Linked DNA regions of Homo sapiens: region 2 is linked to region 1. Evidence: fine-mapped expression QTL. A gene starts in region 1. The other region holds a variant in brackets. All regions are shown on one strand. Distances are from middle to middle.

The links. PIP is the estimated chance that this variant, and not a neighbour inherited with it, causes the effect.
Region 2: its variant is the best candidate, but not a certain one, in a credible set for the expression of OR13A1 in whole blood (TOPMed, PIP 0.55).

What each region holds. Positions count from the first base shown.
Region 1 is chr10:45,307,979-45,324,274 of GRCh38, reverse strand. OR13A1 (olfactory receptor family 13 subfamily A member 1) reads left to right here and starts at 8,667. Exons shown (of 4, transcript NM_001004297.3): 1 at 8,667-8,751.
Region 2 is chr10:45,351,796-45,368,091 of GRCh38, reverse strand. No RefSeq gene overlaps it. Among named protein-coding and RNA genes, the nearest start is that of ALOX5, 14 kb to the left of the region's middle. The variant C/T (reference allele first, on the strand shown) is at 7,221.

The DNA of each region.
Region 1 (16,296 bases):
GGTATCCACATGATGTTTGATATACTTCTTTTGACATAAATATACACAATGAAGTGATTACTACAGCCAAATAATGATTACCATACCCATCATTGCTAGCGTTTAGAAAGACAACTGATTTTTATGTGCTGATATTGTACCCTGCAACCTTACTGAATTTACTAAATCTAGTAGTTTTTTGGTGCATCCTTTGGGATTTTCTATTAACAGAATCATGCCTTCTGCAAATGTAAGTAATTTAGCTGCTTCTTTTTAAATATGTATGCCTCTTATGTCTTTTTCTTGGCTATGTTCTTTTCTCTGGCTAGAACTTCTAGTACAATGTCCAGTGTCAGTGTTGAAAATGGGCATCCTTGTGTTGTTCCTGATTTTAGGAGTAAAGCTTACAGTTTTTCTACCCCTGAGTATGATTTTAGTTGTGAGATTTTCCTATATGCCCTTTATCATGCTAAGAAAGTTCCCTTTTATTTTAGTTTGCTGATTTTTTAAAATTATGAAAGGGCATTTAATTTTATCAAATACTTTTTTCTGTGTCTGTTGAGAGTTTGGCCATTTTTTTTCTATTGAAATGGTGTATTATGGTAGCTGATTTTTGGATGTGAAACCAACCTTGTGTCCTTGGGATAAATCCCATGTAATCATGGTGTATAATTCTTTCTATGTATTGCTGGATTTGGTTTGCTAGTATTTTGTTGGGAACTTTTGTGCCCATAAGATAAGAGGTATTGATCTATGGTTTTCTTTTCCTGTGATGTCTTTATTTGGTTTTTGTGTCAGGGAAATAGTGGCTTCATAAAATGTTCAAGAAGTGTACCCTCCTCATCTTTTTGTTGGAAGAGTGTGAAAAATTGGTATTATCAAATGTTTAGTAGAATTCACCAGTGAAGCCATTTGCTTTTCTTTTTGGGTAGTTTTTGATTACTGATTCATTCTCTTAATTTGTTTTAGGTCTATTCAGATTGTCTGTTTCTTCTTGAGTCAGTCTTGGTAGTTGTGTCTTTCTTGAAATTTTTTCATTTCACTTAAATTATCTTATTTGTCAGTGTACAATTATTTTTGGTATTCCTTTATAATCCTTTTTATTTCTTTAATGTCAGTAGTAATGTCTCTTCTTTTATTTCTGATTCTATAGTTTGAGTTTTCTCTCCTCTTTCCCTGATGAAACTGAAGTTTTTTCCATTTTATTGATTTTTTTCAAACGATCAAATTATTTCATTAATTTGTGCTGTTATCATTATTTCCTTCCTTCTGCTTACTTAAATTTAGTTTCATATTTTTTGTAAGTGTCTTAAGGTAGAATTTTAAGTTATTGATTTAAGAACTTTCTTAATACAAGTGTTTACAGCTGTTGATATTACTCTAATTACTTCTTTAGCTGCATCACAATTGTTTTGGTATGTTGTCTTCATTATTATTCGTCTAAAAATATTATCTAATTTCTGTCTTGATTTCTTCTTTGACTCATGAATTGTTTTAGAGTGGAAATTTCATTTTAAATTTCCAAATATTTGTGAATTTCCCAAATTTCCCCTGTTGTTGATTTCTAATTTTATTCCATTGTGGTTAATAACATACTTTGCATTATTTCTATCCTTCAAATTTATTGAGGTGTGTTTTATGGCCTAATATGTGGTCTATCTTCTAGAATGTTCCATGCTCACTTGACATGAATGTATACTTTGTTGTTGTTGTTAAGTAGAATGTTCCATAGTCCTTGAGGTCTATTTGGTTTGTAGTATTGCTCAAGTCCTCTTTTTCCTTGTTGATCCGTCCAGTTGTTCTATCCATTTTTGAACGTGTAGTATTGAAGTCCTTGACTATTTCTGTTGACTCGGTTGACTTGTCTATTTCTTTCTTTTCTCAGGTCTGTTTTTGTTTCATTTATTTTGGTGCTTCATATATATAGGTGCATATATGTTGATAACAGTTATATCTTCCTAATGGATGGATTCCTTTGTAATTACAAAAGGCCACTCTATCTCTAGTAACAATTTTTGTTTTAAAGTCTATTTGTCTGATATCAGTGTACTGACTCCAGTGTTTTTGTGGTTGCTGTTTGCATAATATATTTTTCCTGTTCTTTTACTTTCATTCTGTGTCTTCGAATCAAAATTGTGTTTTCTCCAGACAATATATACTTCATGTTTTCTTATCCAATATAACACCTTTGCCTTTTGATTGCATTGTTTATTCCATTCACACTGCATATTATTATTTAGTGGGATTTATGTCTGTCATTTTAGTTCTTTTTTGTTTTTGTTTTGAGACAGAATCTTGCTCTGTCACCCAGGCCGGAGTGCAGTGGCGTGATCTCGGCTCACTGCAAGCTCCAACTCCCGGGTTCAGGCCATTCTCTTGCCTCAGCCTCCCAAGTAGCTGGGACTACAGGTGCCCACCACCACTCGTGGCTAATTTTTTGTATTTTTAGTGGAGACTGGGTTTCACCGTGTTAGCCAAGATGGTCTCGATCTCCTGACCTCGTGATCTGCCCACCTCGGCCTCCCAAAGTGTTGGGATTACAGGCATGAGCCACCGCACGCCCGGATTTTTTGTTTTTTATATGTATCATGTCTTTGTTGTTCCTGTTTTGTCTTTACTTCTTTCTATTTCATTGAATTAATATTTTCTAATATAGTATTTAAGTTTTATTAATAATTTTATCACTGTATTTTTATTTTTAGTGGTTTCTCTAGGATTTTCTGTATATATCTTATCAGTATGAGTTTCAGATTCACACTAGCTTAATTCCAGTAATATGTAGAAATGTTACTCATGTAGAACTTAATTCTCTTGCTCTTTTGTGGTTATTTTATTTATATTATATCAATTAATGTTACAAAGATATACATTGTTTAAATTATTATTGGTGCTATTATTAGCATACATAACACCCACATATTAAAATTGTATATATTGCATATATGTATTATAGAATTGTATATATTATAGGGCCAATAGTATATTGTATACATGTTATTTTATATAATTGTTTTTAAAATGAGTTAAGAAAAAAGAAAAATGCATTTCTACTGTCTATTATAGAAAAATAATTACATCATACTGAACACGCAAAAACTGGAAGCATTCCTTTTCAGAACAGGAATAAGACAAGGGTGCCCTCTCTCCCCATTCCTCTTCAACATAGTACTGGAAGTGCTATCCAAAGCAATCAGGCAAGAGAAATAAATAAAAGGCGTCCAGATAGGAAAAGAAGAGAGAAAAGTATCTCTCTTTGTGGATGATATGATTCTATACATAGAAAACCCTAAAGACTCCAACAAAGCCTCCTGGAATAAACAAATGACTTCAGCGACGTTTCAGGATACAAAATGAATGTGCAAAAATTAGTAGTATTTCTATAAACCAATAACATTCAGGCTAAGAACCAAATCAAGACTGCAATCCCACTTACAATAGCCACAAAAAATTAAAATACCTAGGAATACAGCTAACCAAGGAGGTGAAAGATCTCTACAAGGAGAACTATAAAACGCTGCTAAAAGAAATCAGAGAGGACACAAATAAATGGAAAAACATTCCATGCTCAGGGATTGGAAGAATCAATATCATTAAAATGGCCATACTGCCCAAAGCAATCTATCTACAGATTCAATGCTATTATTACCAAACTACCAATGTCATTTTTTTATAGAATTGGAAAAAAGTGTCCTAAAATTCATATGGAACAACAACAACAGAGAGCCCAAAAAGCAATCCTAAGCAAAAAGAACAAAGCCAGAGGCATCACATTACCTGGCTTCAAACTATACTAATAAGACTACAGTAACCAAAACAGCATGGTGCTAGTACGAAAACAGATACCTACACCAGTTGAACAGAATAGAGAGCTGAGAAATAAATCTGCACACTTACAGCCATCTAATCTTTGACAAAGTTGCCAAAAGTAAACAATGGGGAAAGGACTCCCTAGTGAATGAATGGTCCTGGGATAGCTGACTAGCCATATGCAGAAAAATAAAACAAGACACCTAACTTTTGCCACATACAAAAATTAACTCCAGATGGATTAAAGATTTAAATATAAGACCTTGAAGTAAAAGAATCCTAGAAGAAAATCTCAGAAACACCATTCTGGACATGGGCCTTGGGAAAGAATTTATGATTAAGTCCTCAAAAGCAATTACAACAAAAACAGAAATTGACAAGTGAGACCTAATTAAACTGAACAACTTCTGTACAAGAAAAGACACTATCAACAGATTAAATAGATAACCTACAGAATGAGATAAAATATTTGCAAATTATGCACCCAACAAAGGACTAATATCCAGAATCTATAAATAACTTAAACAACTGGACAAGGAAAAAACAACCCCATTGAAAAATGGGCAAAAGATATGAACAGACACTTCTCAAAAGAAGACATACAAGTGGCCAACAAATGTATGAAAAAAGGATCATCATTACTAATCATCAGAGAAATGCAAGTCAAAAACCACCCATGGTAGCTAACGCATGCAATCCCAGCACTTTGGGAAGCCGAGGCAGGTGGGTCACCTGAGGTCAGGAGTTAGAGACCAGCCTTGCCAATATGGCTAAACCCTGTCTCTACCAAAAATACCAAAATTAGCTGGGTGTGGTGGCAGGTGCCTGTAACCCTAGCTTCTCAGTAGGCTGAGGTAGGAGAATCACTTGAACCCAGGAGGCAGAGGTTGCAGCGAGCCAACATTGTGCCACAGCCTAGGTGACAGAGTGAGACTCTGTCTTAAAAAAAAAAAAAGAAACCCCAATGGGCTACCATCTCACACATCAGAATGGCTATTATCAAAAAGTCAGAAAGCAACAGATGTTGGTGGAGCTGAGGAGAAAAGGGAATGCTCATGCATGGCAGTGGGAATGTCAATTAGTTCAGCCTCTGTGGAAAGCAGTTTGGAGATTTCTCAAAGAACTTAAAACAGAACTACCATTTGGCCCAGCAACCCCATTACTGGGTATATATCCAAAAGAGAACAAATTATTCCTCCAAAAAGACACATGCACTCACATGTTCATTGCAGTACTATTCACAACAGCAAAGTCATGGAATTGACCTAGGTGCCCACCAACAGTGAATTGGATAAAGAAAATGTGGTACATATACTCCATGGAATGCTATGCAGTCATAAAAATGAAGAAAATCTTCAGTGCCATCCCCATCAAGCTACCAATGACATTCTTCACAGAATTGGAAAAAACTACTTTAAAGTTCACGTGGAACCAAAAAAGAGCCCGCATTGCCAAGTCAATCCTAAGCCAAAAGAACACAGCTGGAGGCATCACGCTACCTGACTTCAAACTATACTACAAGGCTACAGTAACCAAAACAGCATGGTACTGGTACCAAAACAGAGATATAGACCGATGGAACAGAACAGAGCCCTCAGAATTAATGCCACTTATCTACAACTATCTGATCTTTGACAAACCTGGCAAAAACAAGAAATGGGGAAAGGATTCCCTATTTAATAAATGGTGCTGGGAAAACTGGCTAGCCATATGTAGAAAGCTGAAACTGGATCCCTTCCTTACACCTTATACAAAAATTAATTCAAGTTGGATTAAAGACTTACATGTCAGACCTAAAACCATAAAATCCTTAGAAGAAAACCTAGGCAATACCATTCAGGACATAGGCATGGGCAAGGACTTCATGTCTGAAACACCAAAAGCAATGGGAACAAAAGCCAAAATAGACAAATGGGATCTAATTAAACTAAAGAGCTTCTGCACAGCAAAAGAAACTACCATCAGAGTGAACAGGCAACCCACAGAATGGGAGAAAATTTTTGCACCTACTCATCTGACAAAGGGCTAATATCCAGAATCTACAATGAACTCAAACAAATTTACAAGCAAAAAACAAACAACCCCATCAAAAAGTAGGCAAAGGATATGAACAGACACTTCTCAAAAGAAGACATTTATGCAGCCAAAAAACACATGAAAAAATGCTCATCATCACTGGCCATCAGAGAAATGCAAATCAAAACCACAGTGAGATGCCATCTCACACCAGTTAGAATGGCGATCATTAAAAAGTCAGGAAACAACAGGTGCTGGAGAGGATGTGGAGAAATAGGAACACTTTTACACTGTTGGTGGGACTGTAAACTAGTTCAACCATTGTGGAAGTCAGTGTGGCAATTCCTCAAGGATCTAGAACTAGAAATACCATTTGACCCAGCAATCCCATTACTGGGTATATACCCAAAGGACTATAAATCATGCTGCTATAAAGACACATGCACACGTAGGTTTATTGTGGCACTATTCCCAAGAGCAAAGACTTGGAACCAACCCAAATTTCCAACAATGATAGACTGGATTAAGAAAATGTGGCACATATACACCATGGAATACTATGCAGCCATAAAAAATGATGAGTTCATGTCCTTTGTAGGGACATGGATGAAGCTGGAAACTATCATTCTCAGCAAACTATTGCAAGGACAAAAAACCAAACACCTCATGTTCTCACTCATAGGTGGGAATTGAACAATGAGAACACATGGACACAGGAAGGGGAACATCACACACTGGGCACTGTTGTGGGGTGGGGGGCTGGGGGAGGGATAGCATTAGGAGATATACCTAATGCTAAATGACGAGTTAATGGGTGCAGCACACCAACATGGCACATGTATACATATGTAACTGACCTGCACGTTGTGCACATGTACCCTAAAACTTAAAGTATAATAATAAAAAAAAATAAATAAAAATAAAAAATAAAAGAAAATGAAGAAAATCATGTCATTTGCAGCAACATGGATTTGGCTAGAGGACTTTATCCTAGGCAAACAAATACAGAAACAGAAAATCAAATACCACATATTCTCACTCATAAGGGGGAGGTAAACACTGGGTACTGATGGACATAAAGATAGCAACAATAGACACTGGGGACTATTGGGGTGGTGAAGGAGGGAAGGGAGAAAGTGTTGAAAAACTGTTGAGTACTATTCTCAGTATCTGGGTAATGGGACCATTCATACCCCAAACCTCAACATCACACAATATACCCAGGTTACAAACTTGCACAAGTGCCCTCTGAATCTAAAATAAAAGTTGAAAAAGCAAAAATAAAACAGTAAACAACAACAACAACAAAACAGCAAAACCCTCAATAAATACATAAATAAAAATATAAATAAATGTCTTTGCCAGAGCTTTTTGTTTTTTGTGTGGCTTTGAGTTAGTATCTGGGGTCACGTTGCTTTTAAGCTGTTTGCTATCAACTGCATCCTATCTAATATTTCTTTTTCTTAATAGTAAACCACTCAATTTTTGTGAGGAGATATTACATTGTGGTTTTGATTTACATTTCTCTAATGATTTCCTTTCCAGTTTGGATGCTGAGCATTTTTTCTTATGTTTTTTGCCCATTCATATATAATTTTAAAAGAAATGTCTATTCAAATCCTTTTGCCATTTTAAAATCATATTATTTTTAAATATTGTGTTGTAGAAATTATTTATATATTCTGGATATTAACTCTTTATCAGATATATAATTTACTAATATTTTCTTCCATCCACAAGTTTTTTTTAACATTGTTATGTCCTTTAATGCATAAAAGTTTTAAAAAGTTTGATGTAGTCCCAATTGTCTATTTTTTCTTTTGTTGTCTGTACTTTTGGTGTCATATTAAAAAATAATTGCCATATCCCCTTATTCTAAGAGTTTTATAGTTTTAGATCTTCCATTTAAGTTTTAAATCCATTTTGAGTTAATTCTTGTATATGGCATAAGACAAAGTTTCAACTTCACTCTTTCATGTGTGGATATCCAAGTTTCCCAACACTGTTTGTTGAAGAGAATGTTCTTCCCTCATTGAGCGGATCTGGAATGCTGTAAATATTATTTGACCATATATGTGGAGTTTTCTTTTAATGGGTTCTTTATTCTATTCCATTGGTCTATATGTCTCTCTTTAAGCCAGTGTCATGCTGTTTTAATTACTGTAGTCTTGTAACATGTTTTGAGATCACGGAGCATGAGACCTTCAACTCAGTTAGTTTTCAAGATTGTCTAGTCAGAGTATATATGAATATTTAGATAAATTTTTCTCTTTTTTCAAAAAATGCAGCTTAGATTTTGATAGGGATTACATATAATTTGTAGACTGCTTTGGGTTCTATTGACTTTTCAAATTAATACATAATGTTGTACAGATTTGGGGAATACATCTGATATTTTGGAGATCTTAACATTAAATCTTCCAATCCATGAATACCAATGTCTTTACATTTATTTGTGACTTCTTTCAGTACTGTTTTGTAGTTTTCAGTGTACAAGCCTTTTATTTCCCTGGCTAAGTTTATTCCTAAGTATTTTACTATTTTTGATGGTATTGTAATTAAATTATTTTCTTAATTACCTTTGGATTGTTTATAGTTAATTTATAGAAAGGCAACTGATTTTTGTGTGTCGATTTTGGATCCTGCAACTTTCCAGAATTTGTTTAATAGTTCCAACAGTTTTCTGGATTTTATGCATATATGCATCTAACAGTTTTCTAGATTTTATGCAGGAGTCTAGGATTTTATGCATATAGGATCAAGTCATCTGTGAGCAGAGATAATTTTACTTTTTTCTTTTATTCTTTGGATGTCTTTTCTTGCTTAATTTTTTTTTCCTAATTGGTCTGCTTGGAAATTCAAATACTATATTGAATAGAAGCGAAGAGACAGAGTATACTTGTCTTGTTCCTAATCCAGAAGAAAAGTTTGAATCTTTTACCATTGAGTGTAAGTTTACCTGTGGATTTTTCATATATGGCCTTTATTATGTTATTTTCCTTCTATTCCTAGTTTGCTGAGTGTTTTCGTGATAAAAGGTGTTAAATTTTGTTAAACATTTTTTCTACATCAATATAAATGATCATGCTGTTTTGTCCTTTATTCTATTACTATAGTGTATTACATTGATTTTTGCATGTTGTATTATTCTTTTTTTTTGAGATGAAATCTCATTCTGTCATTCTGGCTGGAGTGCAGTGGCATGACCTCAGCTCACTGCAACATTTGCCTCCTGGGTTCAAGGGATTCTCCTGTCTCAGCCTCCCAAAGTGCTGGGATTACAGGCATGAGCCAGCACACCCTGCCACATGTTCTATCATTCTTGCATTCCAGGAATAAAGCCAACCTGATCATCACAAATATTGGTCTGTAGTTTTCTTTTCATGTAATGTCTTTGTTTGACTTTGAAATCAGGGTAATACTGGCCTCATATAATGAGCTTTGAAGTGTTTTTTATATTCATTTTTGTAAATGACTTTGAGAAACATTGGTTCTAATTCTTCCTTAAATGTTTGGTAGTCATCCGGTTCTGGGCTGTTGTTTGTTTGGAGGTTTTTGAACCAGTTTAATCTCCTTCGTAGTTATAAGTCTGTTCGTTTTTTCTACTTCTTCATGATTCACTCTTATTAGGTTGTATATTTCTAGAAATTTATGCACTTCTAAATTATCCAATTTGTTGACATATAATTAACTGTTGATGGTATTTTCTTATAATCCTTTTGATTTCTATGGCATGGGTTCTAATGTTCTCTTTTTTATTTCTGATTTATTAGTTGAATCTTTTTTCCTTAGTTAATCTAGCTAAGCATTTGTTAATTTTGTTGGTGTTTTCAAAAACCACCTCTTAGTTTTGTTGATTTTTTTCTATTGTTTTTATATTCTATATTTCATTTATCTCTGATTTAATCTAATCTTTAGGATTTTCCTCCTTCTGCTAGCTTTGGGTGTAGTTTTTTTTCTCTCCTAGTTTCCTGAGGTATAAAGTTAGGTTGTTGATTTGCAAACTTTCTTCTACTTCTTTTTTTTTTTTTCTTAAGTTGTGGAGATGGGGTCTTGCTTTGTTGCCCAGGCTGGTCTCAAATTCCTGGCCTCCAGAAGTTCTCCTCCCTCAGCCTGTCAAAGTGCTGGGATTGCAGGCATGACCCACCATGCCTAGCCACTTTCTTCCTTTTATAATGCACATATTTATAGCTATAAAATTCTCTGTTAGCACTGCTTCTGCTGCATCTTACACATTTTGGTACATTGTATTTTTATTTTCCTTTATCTCAAGATATTTTCTAACTTCCCTTGTGATTTCTTTTTTGACCCATTGCTTGTTGAAAACTGTGTTGTTTAATTTTCACATATTTGTGAATTTTTTGTTTTCCTTCTGCTACTGATGTCTAGTTTTATGTCATTTTCATCAAAATAGATATTTTGTATAATTTCAATCTTTTAAAATTTGTTACAAGTTTTTTTGTGGTATAACATGTGATTTATCTTTGGGAATATTCCATGTAAACTTGAGAAAAATACTATTCTGATTTTATTGGGTGGAATGTTCTGCACATGTTTGTTAGCACTATTTATAGTGTTGTTCAAGTACTGTATTTCCTTATCGATTTTCTGTCTTGTTGTTCTAGCCATTATTGTAAGTGAGGAATTGAAGTCGCCTACCATTATTATGCTGTTTATGTTTCCTCTCTGATCTGTCAATGTTTGCTTCAGATATTTAGGAGCTCTGGTATTAGAGGTATATATATTTGTAATTGTTATATCTTTCTGCTGAATTGACTTTTTGTTATATAATATCCATTTTTTTGTCTTGTGACTATTTTTGACTTTAAGTCTATTTTGTTGGATAGTAGTATAGTCACTTCTGCTTGCTTTTATTTACCATTTGCATGGCATTTACTTTTCCTTTTTTTCATTTTAAGCATATTTGTTTCTTAGACCTAAATGACAGGATAAAGTTGGATCCTTTTTACAAATCCATTTTCCAGTCTATATCTTTTGATTCAGGAGTTTAATCCATTTACATTTAAAGTAATTACTGATAGGGAAGGACCTACACTTGCCATTTTGTTGTTTCCTGTATGTTTTGTAAATTTTGTTTTTTATTCCTTCTCTTACTGACCTCTTTTGGGTTTTGTCGATTTTTTTTTGTGGTGACATTTTGATTCCCTTCCTGTTTCCTTTTGTGTGTATTCTATAGATTTTTTTATGGTTACCATAAGAATTATAAAAAACATCTTAAAGTGTTAACAAGCTATTTTAAACTGTTAAGAGAATAACTTCGACTGTGTACAAAAACTATTTCTTCAAAGCTCCTACCCTCACCTTAGGTTACTTATGTCACAAGTTACATCTTCATATGTAATGTATTCATTAACACAGTTTTATAGTTATTTTTAAGCTTTTGTCTTGTAAATTCTATACAAGAATTAAAAGTGCATTTATGTACCAAAACTGCATAGTACAGTCTCTATATATGTCCATATATTTATCTTTACTGGAGAGCTTTATATTTTCATAAGACTTCATGTTACTATTTAGCATCCTTTTGTTTCAACTTGCAAGATACTACAGCAGGTCCAGTGGTAATGAACTCCCCAGTTTTTGTTCATCCTGGAAAGGCTGATTTTTCCTTTATGTTTGAAGGATGGTTTTGCTGGATATAATATTTTTGGTTGAAATTTTCTTTTCTTTCAGCTCTTTGAATATATTATCCCCCTGCCTTCTGGCCTGCAAGGTTTCTGTTGATAAATCCACTGATAATTTTATAAAGGCTTCCTTTTACATGACAAGTTACTTTCTTTTGCTGCTTTCAAGATTGTCTCTTTGTCTTTGACTTTTGAGAGTTTGATTATAGTGTGTCTCACTGTGAGTCTCTGGGTTTTCTTTAACATTTTTTTTTTGTTCATATCTTCTGATGATGAATTCCTTTAACTTTTATATTTGTGAAATGTTTTTTCTTCATTTTCAGAAGGTATTTTTAGTGAGTGTAAAATTCTACATTGACAGTTTTTTTCTTTCAGTACTGTTTAGTGTTTCTCTACTGTCTTCTTGCTTGTACTGATTGTATAGAAACTCTGCTGTAATTCTTATCTTTGTGTCTTTGTACTTAATGTGCCTTTTTACTCTGCCTGTTTTTAAGATTTTATTTTTATTATTGATTTTGATCATGTGGCTTGGTGTGAGTTTCTTCATATTTATTGTGCTTGGGGTTCATTGAGCTTATTAAGTCTGTAGGTTTATATTTTTCATTACATTTAGAAAAATTGTAGCCATTATTCATTCAAATTTTTTTCTGTTCTTCTCCCATTTCTCATGCCCTTATGGGGTCTAATTATATGTATATTAGGCTATTTGAGGTTGTCTTACAGCTCACTTACAGTTCTTATGTTTATTTTTCCACTTCTATTTCATTTGGGCAGGTTTATTATACTTTTCCCTAATTTGCTAATTTTTTTGCAATGTCTAATCCACTGTTAATCTCATCCAATGTATTATTAATTTCAGACATTGTAGTTTTCATCTCTAGAAATTGTTCATCTTTTTATATCTTCTTTGTCTCTATTTGATATGCTAAGTCTTTTCTCTAGCTTCTTGAGCATATGAAATATAGTTATGACAACTATTTTATTTTATTACAACTTTTACCTTAGGTTCAGAGGTACATGTGCAGGTTTGTTATGTAGGTAAACTCGTGTCACAGGAGTTTGTTTATTATTTCATCACTCAGGTACTAAGCCTAGTACCCAATAGTTGTTTTTCTGTTCCTCTCCCTTCTCCTACCCTCCAACTTCAAGTAGGCCCCAGTGTTTATTGTTCCTCTCTTTGTATCACTACTATTTTAATGTCTCTACTAGTTCTCTTATTTTTGTCATTTCTGAGTTGATTTTATTTTTCTCACTATGGCCATATTCTCCTACTTCTTTGAATATCTGGTATGCAAATTATACCTAGTATGGATATTATATCAAGACCCTGTCGCAATATGGATACCTAAAAGAAAATAACAATGTTTACCAGTTTGCTCTAAGCCTTTCTTAGCTCTTTTGCTTGTTTCTCAAGAACAAGCACAGAGGGTGGAGCTCAACCAAGACTGAAGTTAAAGATGTAGAAAGATTGAGATGGGAAGTAATTAAGTTGAGGAGCTCTGATACAATGGTATTTCTCTTTTTAATCATGTAAGATGCAAGCCCAAGATAATATGTTGGGAAAGTTGAAGGCGAATGTCTTGAGAAATATGAAATGCACCCAAGGCTATGGCTGGGTGATAGAAATAACTAAAAAGTTTTAAAAGGATTGTTTTATAGCTGGTCCTTGCTGAGGTTAGGGGATAGGCCTGGAAAAATTGAGCAGTGGTATTGCCCAGGCAGGACTCCTCATGACATTCTCCAGATCCCTAAGTTTTTCCAAGTTTCCAAGCATTTCCTTGGCCAGCAAGTCATCTCGCAGCACAGATCCTACTCTCTTTCAGTCAGTCATTCCACAACTCTACAAAGCATTTTTCTCCATCAAATGGGAACTTTTGGGGTTCTGCATAATTTTTCAGGGTTCCACCACTTTTGACTCTTTCTGGATACCTTGTAAGGATATTATAACTCTTTAATTCATGTCCTTGATTTTCTCTTTTAACTTTTAATACTGTTCATTGCCTGTTTACCTCTTTCACCCTCTTCTTTTCACTTCCGCCCTCTTTCTTGTGTAAGTATATAATCATCCTTTTTTTCTTCCTCGAATCTCAGTTCTCGGGAGTAACATATACAATTCATTCTTACTTCCAGTCTTTTATTCCTAAGTTCCTTATCTCTAGTTCTCTTGCATATTTGTGGCAATTATTAGTTTTTTTCCAAAAATCCATTCTCCCTTTTTCCTGTACATGTATCTTTCCAGCTTGACCACATTTCCCAGCTTCCCTGGCAGCTAGGTGAAGCAATGTAACTAAACTTTTGCCTGTAAAATATGAGCAGAAGTTATGTGCACAATATCTGCCTCACTTGCTTAAAATAAATTGTATTATTTGAGCTTTCTATATTGTCCCTTTTTACAACTAAAATGTAGAGGTTATGGCAACTTTTATGGTAAAGAGAATCATCACGTAGGAGATCAAGAATCATTGATTTGAGAGGAACCTAAATCCTTTAATGACTTAGTGGAGCAAGACTGCCCCATCAGTCTGGAAGCTACCCCACAACTTATGTATATCTTCAGATTGTTGAGCAAAAGAGAAAAAATGAAGCCACTATATATTTAGGTCTCTTCATGTTAACAGTTTAGCTTTTAACCTAACACACATTTATTCCTGAATGGTAGCATATTATTAACATCACAGGAAGGGAATTCCTTGTTCATGGATCTTTTATTTTGTTGAAATAAAGGTAATCTGCTTGGGCTTAATACTGCCAAGGCAGAATTTTTTGGAATAATTATTTCTATAGATGACCCATTCATAATGACAACTAACATGGTTTCTAAAATGGATTCATGTACGTCATCTTATTTAGTCCCCGCAAAAATTCTGAAGGTAGGTATAATTATTCCCATTCTATATATTGAAAAATTGGGATTCAGAGAGACTACGGACTTATACAAGTTTCTGCAGCTATTTAAGAAACAGAGTAAAGTCTCAAAGCCATTAATGAACTGTTTAGTTTAGTGCTGCTTAGTAAAATTAGAACTGTTTGAAGTGCGTTTTAATAGTAAACCCATCGATATTTAGTCAGCTCTCTGCTTGCTAACTAATATGGAAGAAAAAACATACATCTACGTACATCCTGAATTGGGAGAAGGGAAATAAAATATTGCCAATCCCCTTTCCTGTATTAGGTACTGTGATAAGGCGATAAGGCTTTTCATTATTATAAATGAGTCCTGGAGAGGTTAAGCGCAGTCACCCAAAGTCACATGACCAGTAACTTTCAGAGATTTTACCCCAGGTCTGGAAAGACTCTGAAGCCCATGTTATTGCCTCCAGAGCCTGGTGGAGAACCCCTGAATGGGACAGAGACTCAGCAGACAGAGTGGTCCTTTCCTTCCAGGGAGTCAGGGAAGGTTTGGTAGGGGAGATAGAGTTAGATCTGGGTGGGATTTGGATGAAATGAGATCAAGCAGGGATAAATAAGATCCAAGCTGTTTATGAGGGACAGGGAGAGGCCAGCTCTGTTAGAAAGAGTGGTTTATACAGAGAAGCATGGAAACATTTGCTCCATGCCTCGCCTTCCATGGATAGCAGTCCAGAAATGCTACTTGCCTGCCTGACAGTCTTTCTCCAGTCCCCAGGTGTGGACACGTTCTGAGCACCTGAGCCTGGGTCTGCCCTGACCCAGATTCTGTGAGCTGGGACAGAGAATGTGTCCTGCTGTCCCTCCTCCCCCACTTGGGCCCACACCCTTTTCTACACATTTGGATTAGAAATCTGAATTGGCCTTTCTGTGAACCCCAATGACAGGCAAGTCCCCAGTAAAGAAGCACTTAATTTAATTGCTCCTTCAGGGTCCACTTAGAGTAATAGTTGTGAACAGCTCTCCCTAGTGTCTCCCACAGGCAGTGACAAATGTTGCTAAAGATAAGTCACAAATTCTTGGCAAGGCCATCTTAAATATGGGAAGGAAACCTTGTTCAGTCCTGAACAGTCCTGTTCAGACTGATCTTATCACAGGTTGCACACTGCCTCAATGTCACCATGTTTCTACCCTCAGTTGTGCTTGGCAGAGAGAGGACAGCTATACATAAAGTCTGTTCACTCTACAAAGGTGAAATCATTTTTTTTAAGGTAATTATGATTGTTCTGAGGATGGTGATTGAGTGACATTTAAAAAATGGGAAAAGTTCTACTCATAACTCTGTCTGCTTAATTTGCTTATATAAAAGACTTAATGGTTTTTGTTGAGTTGATCCAGAGTCAGTAACATTTGAATATGTGTTATTACCATTTGATCAGTAACAAAACAACAGGGTAAGTGGGATGCCAAATGTGGCTGAGAGTTTAGGGTTTACATTCCACACCCCAGCCTTAAATACGTTTGTATAAATTATTGGTTGATTTTTCTTTTTCATGGCTTTTCTTTGACATTTGATGGGGCTGGATTTATGGAGGCAACCAACAAATTACACAGCAATGAATTCTGGACTGTAGTCCCACAGCCTTGAGCCTAGATACTAGCTGTGTCACTAATACTCTGTGTGACCAGGGTAAGTTATTTAGATACATTTATGACTTTCCAAATCAATAGGTTGGACAAAGTTATCTTCAAAATGTCTTTCAGATTTGACCCTGAACATATGCGATTCTGGCATGTTCTGATTTTTAGTTTTCTGTTCTTGAAGCATGTCTACAATAGAAATGCCTACCTTCATATACAATAAAAGGACATTAGATTAATATGGTGTCTGTGAAAATCATTGAACAGCTTTAGAGATAAAAATAATGAAATGAGTCAAGTTCTCCATTATTAATTAAATCTTTTAAATTTTCTGTTTATGAAACTATGAACAATAAATTGG
Region 2 (16,296 bases), 44 kb before region 1:
GTTGGTTTGCTGCATCCATCAACTCATCATTTACATTAGGTATTTCTCCTAATGCTATCTCTCCCCCAGTCCACCACCCCCCAACAGGCCCTGGTGTGTGATGTTCCCTGCCCTGTGTCCAAGTGTTCTCATTGTTCAGTTCCCATCTATGAGTGAGAACATGCGGTGTTTGGTTTTCTGTCCTTGTCATAGTTTGCTGAGAATGATGGTTTCCAGCTTCATCCATGTCCCTGAAAAGGACATGAACTCATCCTTTTTTATGGCTGCATAGTATTCCATGGTGTATATGTGCCACATTTTCTTAATCCAGTCTATCATTGATGGACATCTGGGTTTGTTAGAAGTCTTTGCTATTGTGAATAGTGCCACAATAAACATTCGTGTGCATGTGTCTTTATAGTTGCACCATTTGTAATCTTTTCGGTATATACCCAGTAATGGGATTGCTGGGTCAAATGGTATTTCTAGTTCTAGATCCTTGAGGAATTGCCACACTGTCTTCAACAATGATTGAACTAATTTACACCCCCACCAACAGTGTAAAAGCATTCCTATTTCTCCATGTCCTCTCCAGCATCTGTTGTTTCCTGACTTTAATGATCGTCATTCTAACTGGTGTGAGATGGTATCTCATTGTGGTTTTGATTTGCATTTCTCTGATGGCCAGTGATGATGAGCATTTTTTCATGTGTCTGTTGGCTGCATAAATGTCTTCTTTTGAGAAGTGTCTTTTCATGTATTTTGCCCACTTTTTGATGGGGTTGTTTTTTTCTTGAACATTTGTTTAAGTTCTTTGTAGATTCTGAATATTAGCCCTTTGTCAGATGAGTAGATTGCAAAAATTTTCTCCCATTCTGTAGGTTGCCTATTCACTCTGATGGTAGTTTCTTTTGCTGTGCAGAAGCTCTTTAGTTTAATTAGATCCCATTTGTCAATTTTGGCTTTTGTTGCCATTGCTTTTGGTGTTTTAGACATGAAGTCCTTGCCCATGCCTATGTCCTGAATGGTAATGCCTAGGTTTTCTTCTAGGGTTTTTATGGTTTTAGGTCTGACATTTAAGTCTTTAATCCATCTTGAATTAATTTTTGTATAAGGTGTAAGGAAGGGATCCAGTTTCATCTTTCTACATATGGCTAGCCAGTTTTCCCAGCACCATTTATTAAATAGGGAATCCTTTCCCCATTTCTTGTTTTTCTCAGGTTTGTCAAAGATCAGACAGTTGTCGATATGCAGCATTATTTCTGAGGGCTCTGTTCTGTTCCATTGATCTATATCTCTGTTTTGGTAACAGTACCAAGCTGTTTTGGTTACTGTAGCCTTGTAGTATAGCTTGAAGTCAGGTAGTGTGATGCCTCCAGCCTTGTTCTTTTGGCTCAGGATTGACTTGGTGATGCGGGCTCTTTTTTGGTTCCATATGAACTTTAAAGTAGTTTTTTCCAATTATGTGAAGAAAGTAATTGGTAGCTTGATGGGGATGGCATTGAATCTGTAAATTACCTTGGGCAGTATGGCCATTTTCACAATATTGATTCTTCCTACCCATGAGCATGGAATGTTCTTCCATTTGTTTGTATCCTCTTTTATTTCGTTGAGCAGTGGTTTGTAGTTCTCCTTGAAGAGGTGCTTCACATCCCTTGTAAGGTGGATTCCTAGGTATTTTATTCTCTTTGAAGCAATTGTGAATGGGAGTTCACTCATGATTTGGCTCTCTGTTTGTCTGTTGTTGGTGTATAAGAATGCTTGTGATTTTTGTACATTGATTTTGTATCCTGAGACTTTGCTGAAGTTGCTTATCAGCTTAAGGAGGTTTTGGGCTGAGACAATGGGGTTTTCTAGATATAAAATCATGTCATCTGCAAACAGGGACAATTTGACTTCCTCTTTTCCTAATTGAATACCCTTTATTTCCTTCTCCTGCCTGATTGCCCTGGACAGATCTTCCAGCACTATGTTGAATAGGAGTGGTGAGAGAGGGCATCCCTGTCTTGTGCCAATTTTCAAAGGGAATGCTTCCAGTTTTTGCCCATTCAGTATGATATTGGCTGTGGGTTTGACATAGATAGCTCTTATTATTTTGAGATACGTCCCAGCAATACCTAATTTATTGAGAGTTTTTAACATGAAGTGTTGTTGAATTTTGTCAAAGGCCTTTTCTGCATCTATTGAGATAATCATGTGGTTTTTGTCTTTGGTTCTGTTTATATGCTGGATTACATTTATTGATTTGCATATGTTGAACAAGCCTTGCATCCTAGGGATGAAGCCTACTTGATCATGGTGGATAAGCTTTTTGATGTGCTGCTGGATTTGGTTTGCCAGTATTTTATTGAGGATTTTGGCATCAATGTTCCTCAAGGATATTGGTCTAAAATCCTCTTTTTTGGTTTTGTCTCTGCCCGGCTTTGGTATCAGGATGATGCTGGCCTCATAAAATGAGTTAGGGAGGATTCCCTCTTTTTCTATTGATTGGAATAGTTTCAGAAGGAATGGTACCAGTTCCTCCTTGTACCTCTGGTAAAATTCGGCTGTGAATCCATCTGGTCCTGGACTCTTTTTGGTTGGTAAGCTATTGATTATTGCCACAATTTCAGCTCCTGTTATTGGTCTATTCAGAGATTCAACTTCTTCCTGGTTTAGTCTTGGGAGAGTGTATGTGTCGAGGAATTTATCCATTTCTTCTAGATTTTCTAGTTTATTTGCATAGAGGTGTTTGTAGTATTCTCTGATGATAGTTTTTATTTCTGTGGGATCGGTGGTGATATCCCCTTTATCATTTTTTATTGCATCTATTTGATTCTTCTCTCTTTTTTTCTTTATTATTCTTGCTAGCGGTCTATCAATTTTGTTGATCCTTTCAAAAAACCAGCTCCTGGATTCATTAATTTTTGAAGGGTTTTTTTTGTCTCTGTTTCCTTCAGTTCTGCTCTGATTTTAGTTATTTCTTGCCTTCTGCTAGCTTTTGAATGTGTTTGCTCTTGCTTTTCTAGTTCTTTTAATTGTGATGTTAGGGTGTCAATTTTGGATCTTTCCTGCTTTCTCTTGTGGGCATTTAGTGCTACAAATTTCCCTCTACACACTGCTTTGAATGCATCCCAGAATTTCTGGTATGTTGTGTCTTTGTTCTCATTGGTTTCAAAGAACATCTTTATTTCTGCCTTCATTTCGTTGTGTACCCAGTAGTCATTCAGGAGCAGGTTGTTCAGTTTCCATGTAGTTGAGCAGTTTTGAGTGAGTTTCTTCATCCTGAGTTGTAGTTTGATTGCACTGTGGTTAGAGAGACAGTTTGTTATAATTTCTGTTCTTTTACATTTGCTGAGGAGAGCTTTACTTCCAAGTATGTGGTCAATTTTGAAATAGGTATGGTGTGGTGCTGAAAAAAATGTATATTCTGTTGATTTGGGGTGGAGAGTTCTGTAGATGTCTATTAGGTCTGCTTGGTGCAGAGCTGAGTTCAATTCCTGGGTATCCTTGTTGACTTTCTGTCTTGTTGATCTGTCTAATGTTGACAGTGGGGTGTTAAAGTTTCCCATTATTAATGTGTGGTAGTCTAAGTCTCTTTGTAGGTCACTCAGGACTTGCTTTATGAATCTGGGTGCTCCTGTATTGGGTGCATATATATTTAGGATTGTTAGCTCTTCTTGTTGAATTGATCCCTTTACCATTAAGTAATGGCCTTCTTTGTCTCTTTTGATCTGTGTTGGTTTAAAGTCTGTTTTATCAGAGACTAGGATTGCAACCCCTGCCTTTTTTTTGTTTTCCATTTGCTTGGTAGGTCTTCCTCCATCCCTTTATTTTGAGCCTATGTGTGTCTCTGCCCGTGAGATGGGTTTCCTGAATACAGCACACTGATGGGTCTTGAATCTTTATGCAATTTGCCAGTCTGTGTCTTTTAATTGCAGCATTTAGTCCATTTACATGTAAAGTTAATATTGTTATGTGTGAATTTGATCCTGTCATTATGATGTTAGCAGGTTGTTTTGCTCGTTAGTTGATGCAGTTTCTTCCTAGCCTCGATGGTCTTTACATTTTGGCATGATTTTGCAGCGGCTGGTACCGGTTGTTCCTTTCCATGTTTAGCACTTCCTTCAGGAGCTCTTTTAGGGCAGGCCTGGTGGTGACAAAATTTCTCAGCATTTGCTTGTCTGTAAAGGATTTTATTTCTCCTTCACTTATGAAGCTTAGTTTGGCTGTATATGAAATTCTGGTTTGAAAATTCTTTTCCTTAAGAATGTTGAATATTGGCCACCACTCTCTTCTGGCTTGTAGAGTTTCTGCCGAGAGATCCGCTGTTAGTCTGATGGGCTTCCCTTTGAGGGTAACCCGACCTTTCTCTCTGGCTGCCCTTAACATTGTTCCCTTCATTTCAACTTTGGTGAATCTGACAATTATGTGTCTTGGTGTTGCTCTTCTCGAGGAGTATCTTTGTGGCGTTCTCTGTATTTCCTGAATCTGAATGTTGGCCTGCCTTGCTAGATTGGGGAAGTTCTCCTGGATAATATCCTGCAGAGTGTTTTCCAACTTGGTTCCATTCTCCCCGTCACTTTCAGGTACGCCAATCAGATGTAGATTTGGTCTTTTCACATAGTCCCATATTTCTTGGAGGCTTTGTTCATTTCTTTTTATTCTTTTTTCTCTAAACTTTCCTTCTCACTTCATTTCATTCATTTCATCTTCCATCGCTGATACCCTTTCTTCCAGTTGATCGCATCGGCTCCTGAGTCTTCACGTAGTTCTCGAGCCTTGGTTTTCAGCTCCATCAGCTCCTTTAAGCACTTCTCTGTATTGGTTATTCTAGTTATACATTCTTCTAAATTTTTTGAACGTTTTCAACTTCTTTGCCTTTGGTTTGAATGTCCTCCCGTAGTTCGGAGTAATTTGATCATCTGAAGCCTTCTTCTCTCAGCTCGTCAAAGTCATTCTCCGTCCAGCTTTGTTCCATTCCTGGTGAGGAACTGCATTCCTTTGGAGGAGGAGAGGCGCTTTGCCTTTTAGAGTTTCTAGTTTTTCTGCTCTGTTTTTTCCCCATCTTTGTGGTTTTATCTACTTTTGGTCTTTGATGATGGTGATGTACAGATGGGTTTTTGGTGTGGATGTCCTTCTGTTTGTTAGTTTTCCTTCTAACAGACAGGACCCTCAGCTGCAGGTCTGTTGGAGTACCCGGCTGTGTGAGGTGTCAGTCTGCCTCTGCTCGGGGATGCCTCCCAGTTAGGCTGCTCGGGGGTCAGGGGTCAGGGACCCACTTGAGGAGGCAGTCTGCCCGTTCTCAGATCTCCAGCTGCGTGCTGGGAGAACCACTGCTCTCTTCAAAGCTGTCAGACAGGGACATTTAAGTCTGCAGTGGTTACTGCTGTCTTTTTGTTTGCCTGTGCCCTGCCCCCAGAGGTGGAGCCTACAGAGGCAGGCAGGCCTCCTTGAGCTGTGGTGGGATCCACCCAGTTTGAGGTTCCCAGCTGCTTTGTTTACCTAAGCAAGCCTGGGCAATGGCAGGCGCCCCTCCCCCAGCCTCGCCGCTGCCTTGCAGTTTGATCTCAGACTGCTGTGCTAGCAATCAGCAAGACTCCGTGGGCATAGGACCCTCCAAGCCAGGTGCGGGATATACTCTCCAGGTGCGCCGTTTTTTAAGCCCGTTGGAAAAGTGCAGTATTCAGGTGGGAGTGACCCGAATTTCCAGGTGCCATCTGTCACCCCTTTCTTTGACTAGGAAAGGGAACTCTCTGACCCCTTGCACATCCCGAGTGAGGCAACGCCTCACCCTGCATTGGCTCGCACACAGTGCGCGCACCCACTGACCTGTGCCCACTGTCTGGCACTCCCTAGTGAGATGAACCCGGTACCTCAGATGGAAATGCAGAAATCACCCGTCTTCTGTGTCACTCACGCTGGGAGCTGTAGACTGGAGCTGTTCCTATTTGGCCATCTTGGCTCCTCCCCCTTCTTCTAGATTTTCTAGTTTATTTATGTAGAGGTGTTTATAGTATTCTCTGATGGTAGTTTGTATTTCTATGGGATCAGTGGTGATATCCCCTTTATCTTTTTTTATTGAGTCTAATTTGATTCTTCTCTCTTTTCTTTATTATTCTTGCTAGCGGTCTATTAATTTTGTTGATCTTTTTAAAAACCAGCTCCTGGATTCATTGATTTTTTTGAAGTGCTTTTTGTGTCTCTATCTCCTTCAGTTCTGTTCTGATCTTAGTTATTTCTTGCCTTCTGCTAGCTTTTGAATGTGTTTGCTCTTGCTTCTCTAGTTCTTTTAATTGCGATGTTAGGTTGTTGATTTTAGTTCTTTCCTGCTTTCTCTTGTGGGCATTTAGTGCTATAATTTTCCCTGTACACACTGCTTTAAATGTGTCCCGGAGAATCTGGTATGTTGTGTCTTTGTTCTTATTGGTTGCAAAGAACATCTTTATTTCTGCCTTCATTTCATTATGTACCCAGTAGTCATTCAGGAGCAGGTTATTCAGTTTCCATGTAGTTGTGTGATTTTGAGTGAGTTTATTAATCCAGAGTTCTAATTTGTTTGCACTGTAGTCTGAGACACAGTTTGTTGTGATTTCTGTTCTTTTACATTTGCTGAGGAGTGTTTTACTTCCAATTATGTGGTCAATTTTAGAATAAGTATGATGTGGTGCTGAGAAGTATGTACATTCTGTTGATTTGGGGTGTAGAGTTCTGTAGATGTCTATTAGGTCCACTTGGTGAATAGCTGAATTCAAGTCCTGGATATCTTTGTGACCCTTCTGTGTCATTGATCTGTCTAATATTGACAGTGGAGTGTTAAAGTCTCCCATTATTATTGTGTGGAAGTCTACATCTCTTTGTACGTCTCTACAGACTTGCTTTATGAATCTGGGTGCTCCCATATTGGTTGCATATATATTTAGGATAGTTTGTTCTTCTTGTTGTATTGATCCCTTTACCATTATGTAATGGCTTTCTTTGTCTCTTTGGATCTTTGTTGGTTTAAACTCTGTTTTATCAGAGACTAGGATTGCAACCCCTGCTTTTTTTTTTTTTTTTTTTTTTTTTGGCTTTCCATTTGCTTGGTGGATCTTCCTCCATCCCTATGTGTGTCTTTGCATGTGAGATGGGTCTCCTGAATACCGCACACTGATGGGTCTTGACTCTATGCAATTTGCCAGTCTGTGTCTTTAATTGAGGCATTTAGCCCATTTACATTTAAGGTTAATATTGTTATGTGTGAACTTGATCCTGTCATTATG[C/T]TGTGAGCTGCTTATTTTGCCAGTTAATTGTTGCAGTTTCTTCATGTCATCGATGGTCTTTACAATGTGGCGTGTTTTTGCAGTGGCTGGTAACAGTTGTTCCTTTCCATGTTCAGTGTTTCCTTCAGGAGCTCTTGTAAGGCAGGCCTGATGGTGACAAAATCTCTCAGCATTTGCTTGTCTGTAAAGGATTTTATTTCTCCTTCACTTATGAAGCTTAGTTTGGCTGGATATGAAATTCTGGGTTGAAAATTATTTTCTTTAAGAATGTTGAATATTGACCCCTACTCTCTTCTGGCTTACAGGGTGTCTGCTGAGAGAGCTACTTTTAGTCTGATGGGCTTCCCTTTGTTGGTAACCCAACGTTTCTCTCTGGCTGCCCTTAACATTTTTTTCCTTCATTTCAACCTTGGTGAAGCTGACAATTATGTGTCTTGGGGTTGCTCTTCTTGAGGAATATCTTTGTGGTGTTCTCTGTATTTCTTGAATTTGAATGTTGGCCTGCCTTGCTAGTTTGGGGAAGTTCTCCTGGATAGTATTCTGAAGAGTGTTTTCCAACTTGGTTTCCTTCTCCCCATCACTTTCAGGTACACCAATCAAGTGTAGATTTGGTTTTTTCACATAGTCCCATATTTCTTGGAGGTGCTTTTCATTTCTTTTTACTCTTTTTTCTCTAATCTTATCTTCTTGCTTTATTTTGTTAATTTGATCTTCAGTCACTGATATTCTTTCTTCCACTTGATTTAATCAGCTATTTAAGCTTGTGCATGCATCATGATGTCCTCATGCCACGGTTTTCAGCTCCATCAGGTCATTTAAGTTCCTCTCTACACTGTTTATTCTAGTTAGCCATTTGTCTAACCTTTTTTGAAGGTTTTTTAGCTTCCTTGCAATGGGTTAGAACATGCTCCTTTAGTTTGGAGTAGTTTGTTATTACCGACCTTCTGAAGCCTACTTCTGCCAACTTGTCAAAGTCATTCTCCACCCAGCTTCATTCCGTTGCCGGTGAGGAGTTGCAATCCTCTGGAGGAGAAGCGGTGCTCAGTTTTTAGAATTTTCAGCTTTTCTGCTCTGGTTTCTCCCCATCTTTGTGGTTTTATCTACCTTTGGTCTTTGATATTGGTGACTACAGATGAGGTTTTGGTGTGAATGTCCTTTTTGTTGATGTTGATGCTATTCCTTTTTGTTTGTTAGTTTTCCTTCTAGCAGTCAGGTCCCTCAGCTGCAGGTCTGCTGGAGTTTGCTGGAGGTCCATTCCAGACTCTGTTTGCCTGGGTATCACCAGCAGAGGCTGCAGAACAGCAAATATTGCAGAAGAGCAAATATTGCTTCCTGATCCTTCCTCTGAGAGCTTTGTCCCAGAGTGGCACCCACCTGTATGAGGTGTCTGTCGGCCCCTATGGGGAGATGTCTCCCAGTTAGGCTACATGGAGTTTAGGGACCCACTTGAGGAGGCAGTCTGTCTGTTCTCAGAGCTCAGATGCCATGCTGGGGCAACCACTGCTCTCTTCAGAGCTGTCAGGCAGGGACGTTTAAATCTGCAGAAGTTGTCTGCTGCCTTTTGTTCAGTTATGCCCTGCCCACAGAGGTGGAATCTATAGAGGCAGTAGGCCTTGCTGAGCTGCGGTGGGCTCTGCCCAGTTTGAGCTTCCTGGCCACTTTGTTTACCTACTCAGTCCTCAGCAATGGCTGACACCCCTCCCCCCACCCAGCTGCAGCCTCGCAGGTTGATCTCAGATTGCTGTGCTAGCAGTGAGCCAGGCTCCGTGGGCATGGGACCTGATGAGCTAGGCTTGGGAGAGAATCTCCTGGTCTGCCGGTTGCTAAGACTATGGGAAAAGCACAGTATTTGGGTGGGAGTGAACCGATTTTCCAGGTACAGTCTGTCACGGCTTCCCTTGGCTAGGAAAGGGAAATCCCCCAATCACTTGTGCTTCCGGGGTGAGGTGACTCCTCACCCTGCTTCACCTCACCCTCCATGGGCTGCATCCATTGTCCAACCAGTCCCAATGAGATGAACCTGGTACCTCAGTTGGAAATGCAGAAATCACCCATCTTCTGTGCCAATCATGCTGGGAGCTGCAGACTGGAGCTGTTTCTATTAGGCCATCTTGGAGCAGAAGTCCAATTTTATTTATTTCTACTGTGATCTTTATTAGTTCTTTTCTTCTACTAATTTTGGGTTTGGTTTACTCTTGCCTTTTTAATTCTTTAAGATGCATCATCAGGTTATTCACTTGAAGTTTTTCTTCCTTTTTGATGTAGGCCCTTATCTGGAAATATCACTCTTGGTACTGCTTTTGTTGTATCCCATAGGTTCTGGTGCATTATGTTTCCATTGTCATTTGTTTTTAGAAAATTTTCAATTCAATTCATAATTTCTTCATTGACCCACTTATCATTTAGGAACATATTGTTTAATTTCCATGTTTTTGTATAGTTTCCAAAATTCCCCTTGTTATTGGTTTCTAGTTTTATTCCATTGTGGTCAAAGAAGATGCTTGAGATTATTTCAGTTTTTTTGAATGTTTTGAGACTTGATTCATGACCTAATATATGGCCTGTTCTTGAGAATGATGTATGTGCTAAGGAGAAAAATGTGTCTTCTGTAACCTTTGGATGAAATATTCTGTAAATACTTATTAGGCCCATTTGGTCTATAGTTCAGATTACATCTGATGTTTCCTTGCTGATTTTCTGTCTGGAAGATCTGTCCAATGCTGAAAGTGGAGCATTGAAATCTACAGCTATTATTGTTTTGGGGGAGGGGGTCTATCTTTCTTTAGCTCTAATAATATTTGTTTTATTTATCTAGGTGCTCCAATGTTGAGTGCATATATATTTACAATTGTTACATCCTCTTGCTTAACTGATCTCTTTATCATTATATAATGACCTTATTTGGTTTTTCTTAACAATTTTTGTCTTGAAATCTATTTAGTCTGATAAAGGTATAGCTACTCCTGTTCTTTTTTGGTTTCCATTGTCGTGAAGTATCATTTCCCATGACTTTATTTTTAGTCTGTGTATTGTTATAAGTGAAGTTTATTTCTTGTAGGTAACAGATCATTGGGTCCTTTTTTTTAATCCATTCAACCACTCTGTATCTTTTTACTGGAGAGTATAGTCCATTTACATTCAATATTATTATTGACAAATAAGGACTTGCTTGCCATTTTGTTATTTATTTTCTGGTTGTTTTGTGATCTTCTCTCCCATCTTTTCTTACTTCCTGTCTCCTTTTTAGTGAAAGTATTTTTTTTGGTGGTATGTTTTAATTTCTTGCTCTTCACTTTTTGTGTATACATTGTATGTTTTTAAATTTGAGGTTACTATGAGGCTTGCAAATACTATCTTATAACCCATTATTTTATGCTGATGAAAACAACACTGATTGCATAAATAAATACACAATCAAGCAAAAAGAAAACTAAAAAAACCTCTACATTTTAACTTTATTTATATGCTTTTAAGCTTTCTGTTATTTATATATCTTATTATACTGTCTTGAAAAGCTGTTGTAATTGTTTTTTAATCAGTTCATCTTTTCCTCTTTCTACTTATGATATAAGTAGCTTACACACCATAATTACAGTGTTATAATATTCTGTGTTTTTTGAGGACTTATTATCATCTGAAGGTACAGTGAGTTTTGTACCTTCAGATGATTTCCTGTTGCTTGTTAATGTTCTTTCTTTCAGATTGAACTCCCTTTAGTATTTCTTGTAAGACAGGTTTGGTGTTGATGAAATCCCTGTTTATTTGATTATTTTTCCTTCTGGTACAAATCTATTGTTCATTTCCTCTAGCAAAATGTTCTTATTGTTGTTATTTTACTTTTAAACCCCAGAATTTCCATTTGGTTAATTAACTTTTGAAAAAATATTTTTAATCTATTATTGGTATTTTTGAATTGACAAGAAATTATCATACCATCTTTTATTTTTTAAGCACATTTTCTTTTAGTTTTTGAACATATTTATAATAATTACTTTGAGGTTTTTTTTCTGCTATGTCTGACATCTTGGCACTCACAAAGGCAGTTTCTCTTGCTTACCTTTTTTCTGGTGTATGGCTCTGTCTTTTCCATATCTCTGCTTGACTCATAATTTTTTTGTTCAAAAATATGTTCTAGCTAGTTGCAATACTCATTTCTGCCCCCCTCACTATGTTACTGTTGTTTAATTGTTTATTTGTTTAATTGCCTGGCTAGACTATATAGTGAAGCCTATTTCCACCATAATTTGTGGCCTCTGATGTTGTTCCTGAGGGAGTCACAGCACTGGGCACATTTTCTCTCAAATTGGAATTACAGTGCATTTAGCAGTGCTCTCTTTGACTGCCTCTTTCTCTGATCTGTTCAGTTGTTTGCCTCTTTTGGTATCATACCCAACTGTTAACCTCCAGCAATTGCTAGATAATTGCTCTTTTGGTTTTGACAGCTTTTTAGGGGCATAAATTGCTCCACAGTCTGATCCAAATATATTTTGCTTCCTTTGCAGGAGCAGTTTTTCAGACAAGACTTTGATGTTTGTTTTAACCTCAGGAAGGCCCTTCTTGGCTCTCTCTTTCTTGGATTTTTATTGTATATGTCTAGCTGGTTTATGGTTTAGTTTGTTGCTCTCACTAAGCTGCCATTAACCTATTAATTGCTTACCACCAAAATATTCATTGTTTTTGACAGTGCCCTTAGGCTTGAACTTCCGCATGTTCTGTTGCAAATAAAGTTTGTCCCTTTAGGGAGAACTAGAGACTTTTCTTCTTATGGCCTACTTCTCCCTCTAGGCAGGTCCTCTAGTCTCCCTACTGCCTCTACTGCCACTACTCTGCAGGTGGTTTTGGGGACAGTGTCATGCTTTTCTCAGATGTCTTTCCTTCTTTATGGGTGGGGTACTGGATTGGGCAGTAATTTCTGTTTTTCTGCCTTTTCTGGAATGGAAACTTCACTCCTCCCATGGAATCTCTGCCCTATGAGTGTAGCGGAGCAAGGACATTCAGCATCAGTATTCTTGGCCCGTGGCACTGGGGATAGAACTTACGCCTTAATAGTAGAGGCTGAGTGGAAGAAGGAAGCTTCAGATTCTCAGTCAAACTTTCTTGGAATAGAACTTCTGCAACATAGAGCCAGAGATGGGCTTGGGAAATGCTGGTAGTCTGCCCTAGATTGGGAGCTGAGGGGAAAGGGCACCCTGTCTTTTTGGCTGCACATCTCTGGAGCAGGGTTTCTGTTTCACTGAACTGATTGCAGGAGAGGGAGGAAATGAACAGAACTTAAACACCATAGACTCAACACCATAGACTCTCACTCCTCTCACTGAAATTGGTAGGCTTTCTTGGATTTCTTCATTTGCTGTCGGCCCTTAGAACAATTTCCAATACTCTAACATTTTTTTATTTTGTTTGTTTTTAATTTTCACCGGTTATGGTTGTTTTACTCTGGAGAATGTCTGCAGAGCTCTTCAGATAGTCATTCTGTAAGTGCTTCTCTCATAATTGATTTCCAACACCTGAAGAGTGAATTCCCTTTTTCAGATGAAATCTTACAAGGAAGCAGATAAAAGTGGAGACATACTGGTTGAACATAAAGTGAACTAACAAACACAGGGCTGGAAGTTCTGATTGATTGACTTTTTTCTTGTTGTTTTTCCATATTCTCCTTCACCTTCATCTTCCAAGCCCTAGATGTAGATGAGAACACTGTTGGAGAATCATTTACCTTTGGGATGAAGTGGATCAGGTCCACTCAGATAGTACAGAATAATGTCCTTTAAATAGAGTCAACTGATTGTAGAGGTTAATTGCGACTACAAAATACCTTCACAGCAATACCTAGATCAGTGCTTGGTTGAATAGTTGAGTACTACAGCCTGACCAAGTTGACAAGCAAAACTGACAATCACACCATGCTTCAGCCACTGTGAAGAGCTTCAACCATGGTTTTTCCTGAGCAGTTTACATCTTCTCATTCCCATGAAATCTTGGCACATTTCCTTCCCTTCATCTGGAGTGCTGCTATCCTTCTCCTCTGTGTTCTAATCTCCTCCTGCACAAATGTTGCTTTTTCCGTGGAGCCCTCCATGACTCTTTCAGGCAGAGTGAGTTGCTCCTTTTCTGAGCTCCCACAACCTTTGTTTAAGCCCATATTTTGGCCCATCGTCACTTGTCCCACCAGTATTTGCTTCTGTCTCCATTCCCCCACCATATTCTGAGCTAACTGAGGGCAGGGACTATGTTTTATGTATTTCTTGATCTCCAGCCTGATGCCAGGAGAAAAGCAGCTGTAAATGTATCCTAGTAGGTAGGTTAAGTTTCCAGGGAGCCTGCAACTTGCTATGAAACTATCGTTTTTGTGGTTGGCAAAGCAGACACGCAGCATAAGGCTAAGCTCAAGAGAGCAACCCTAAGTTCCCCCCAGCTGACCGCATGATCTCCTGACTCATGGAGTGGAACTTGTGGCATGTCCACAGGAAGCCCTGGAGCCACTGTCCCCATGACAGCAGCAGGACAAATGTACTTCTTCAGCAGGACAAAATAGTGCTGGTCCTTTTGCTGGTCAGGAAAGTGACTTTCCTGACAGTCACTTTCCTCCAGAGGGTATCTTGTGTGACTACATCTTCTTTTGGCCAGCTTCAAACATTTATAGCCTATTTCAGTTTCTTCTGGCCTGTTTGCATAACTAAACAGAATTAAGCCCTGTCTACCACTGAGCACTAAAAAGAAAAACATATTCATTGGGGATTTAGAGAAAGAAAGAATAAGAAATCAATTGTCAAGACTCTATTTTCCCAGCTCTACTCTAGGACAGAGGAAGCTCATAGCCCTAACAGACTTTTCCTTAGGATGGATGTTGACAGCTCCTCCCAGCCCACTCCTTGTTTAGTTTTCATTTGTTCTATCCCAGGAAGATTCAGAGGAAGAGGGATACATCTTAAGATGTCTCTGTAACTTTGTAAGGATGCTGCTGAAAAGATAATGATGAAATGTTGATTGCAGCTTCTTTTTAAAAATTTTTATTGATACATAATATTTGTACATATTTATGGGGTACATATGGTATTTCGTTACACGCATAGACTGTGTAATGATCAAGTCAGGATATTTAGGGTATCCATTACCTCAAGCTTTTGTCATTTCTATGTGTTGGGAACATTTCAAATCTTCCTGTCTAGCTATTTTGGAGTATACAATATATTACTGTTAACTATAGTTCTCCTACTCTGCTGTCAAACATTAGAACTTATACCTTCTATCTAACTATATGTTTGTACCCATTAAGCAACCTCTCTTAACACCCCCACCCACAACTGTTCCCAGTCTCTGATAACCATCATTCTATTCTCCTTGAAATGCATGTTTTTAGTTCCCACATGAGTAAGAATATGCAACATTTGTGTTTCTACGCCTGGTTTATTTCCCTCCAGTTCCATTCATGTTGCTTATTGTGGCTTCTTGAGTCTGAGTTCAGAGCTGAGTCATTTTTGGGTGAGTTTCCCCTAATCTTCCACCTCCTTGTGCCTTTCAGAACAAGACCAGGCTTTTGCCTCTTGGCTTCTTTCCCTTCCTGCAAGGCTGTGCCATCAGAAGTAGGCAGGGCAGCCAATGCTATCTTTCCATGGCATGTGCTTTCTTAAGTAGATTTACCATCCATGGCTCAGTTCAACTACTCTGTTGCACTTAGGAAGTTAAGGAGCATTCTTCTCATTGGAACTTCTTGACTAAGTGGAAAGATACACTTCAATCCATGACACACACAAGACTCAAATAGGCTTGATGTATTTGTGATTAGTGTGAACTCAATTCTTGTTTTTTCAGAAGGAAGACCAATTCTCATACTCATCTTGAAACCCGTCTGACATTGTTCCTCCCAAGATTAGATAATCACGACAGAGCACCTCTACTCCTAACTGAACACGCATAAAATAAATAATTCCATCCCAGTCTGAGTGCGGGTCTCTCCCCAGAGGTCTACCCTGATTCTCTGCATGAAAGAGCCACTGGTTATTCTCCTCCCTTTATGCTGCGGGAGGCTAATTGCACTCACCACTACCTAGTACTGTTTTTAACTTTTCCTGTTTATTGCCTGTGTCTCCCACTAGAGGCTGAGTGATATGCGATGTGATCTTCTCAGTTTTGTTCACTTTTACATGTTATCCCCACAACAAGGTTTGTGGTGAGGCGTGGGTGGGAAAAAGGGAAATAATTCCTTCCTTCTTTCCTTCGTTCTGTCTCTCCTTTCTTTCTTTCTTTCTTTCTCTTTCTCTCTTTCTTTCTTTTTCTTTCTTTCTTTCTTTTTTTCTTTCTTTCTTTCTTTCTTCCCTTCTTTCTTTCTTTCTTTCTTTCTTTCTTTCTTTCTTTCTTTCTTTCTTTCTTTCTTCCCTTCTTTCTTTCTGTCTCTTTCCTTCTTTCTTTCTTTTCTTTCTTTCTTTTTCTTTCTTTCTTTCTTTCTTTCTTTCTTTCTTTCTTTCTTTCTCTCTCTCTCTTTCTTTCCTTCTTTCTTCTTCTTCTTCTTTTTTTTTTTTTTTTTTTTGAGACAGAGTTTCACTCTTGTTGCCCAGGCTGGAGTGCAATGGCACGATCTCGGCTCACTGCAACCTCCACCTCCTGGGTTCAAGTGATTCTCCTGTCTCAGCCTCCTGAGTAGCTGGGATTACATGCACATGCCACCACGCCTGGCTAATTTTTGTATTTTTAGTAGAGACGGGGTTTCACCATGTTGACCAGGTGGTCTTGAACTCCTGACCCCAGATGAGCCGCCTGCCTTGGCCTCCCTAAGTGCTGGGATTACAGGCGTGAGCCACCACGCTTGGCTGGAACTAATAATTTCTTAAGCACTCTGTGCTAAGATATTTTACATACTCTAGCTCATTCATTCTTACAACAGCCCTGGGAGGTGACTGTCATTACTCAGTTTTACAGAGAAGGAAACCCAAGTTCCAATGTCTCCTAAATGGCATCTTGTGTGTTTGAACGTTTCAAGTTTGTGAGGAGTGCAATCAGTATCCAAGAAAGTGCCACTTAGAAAGAAAAAGGCTTAAAGAAGGAAAATGTTCTGGGATGATGAAAATCTAATACCTAA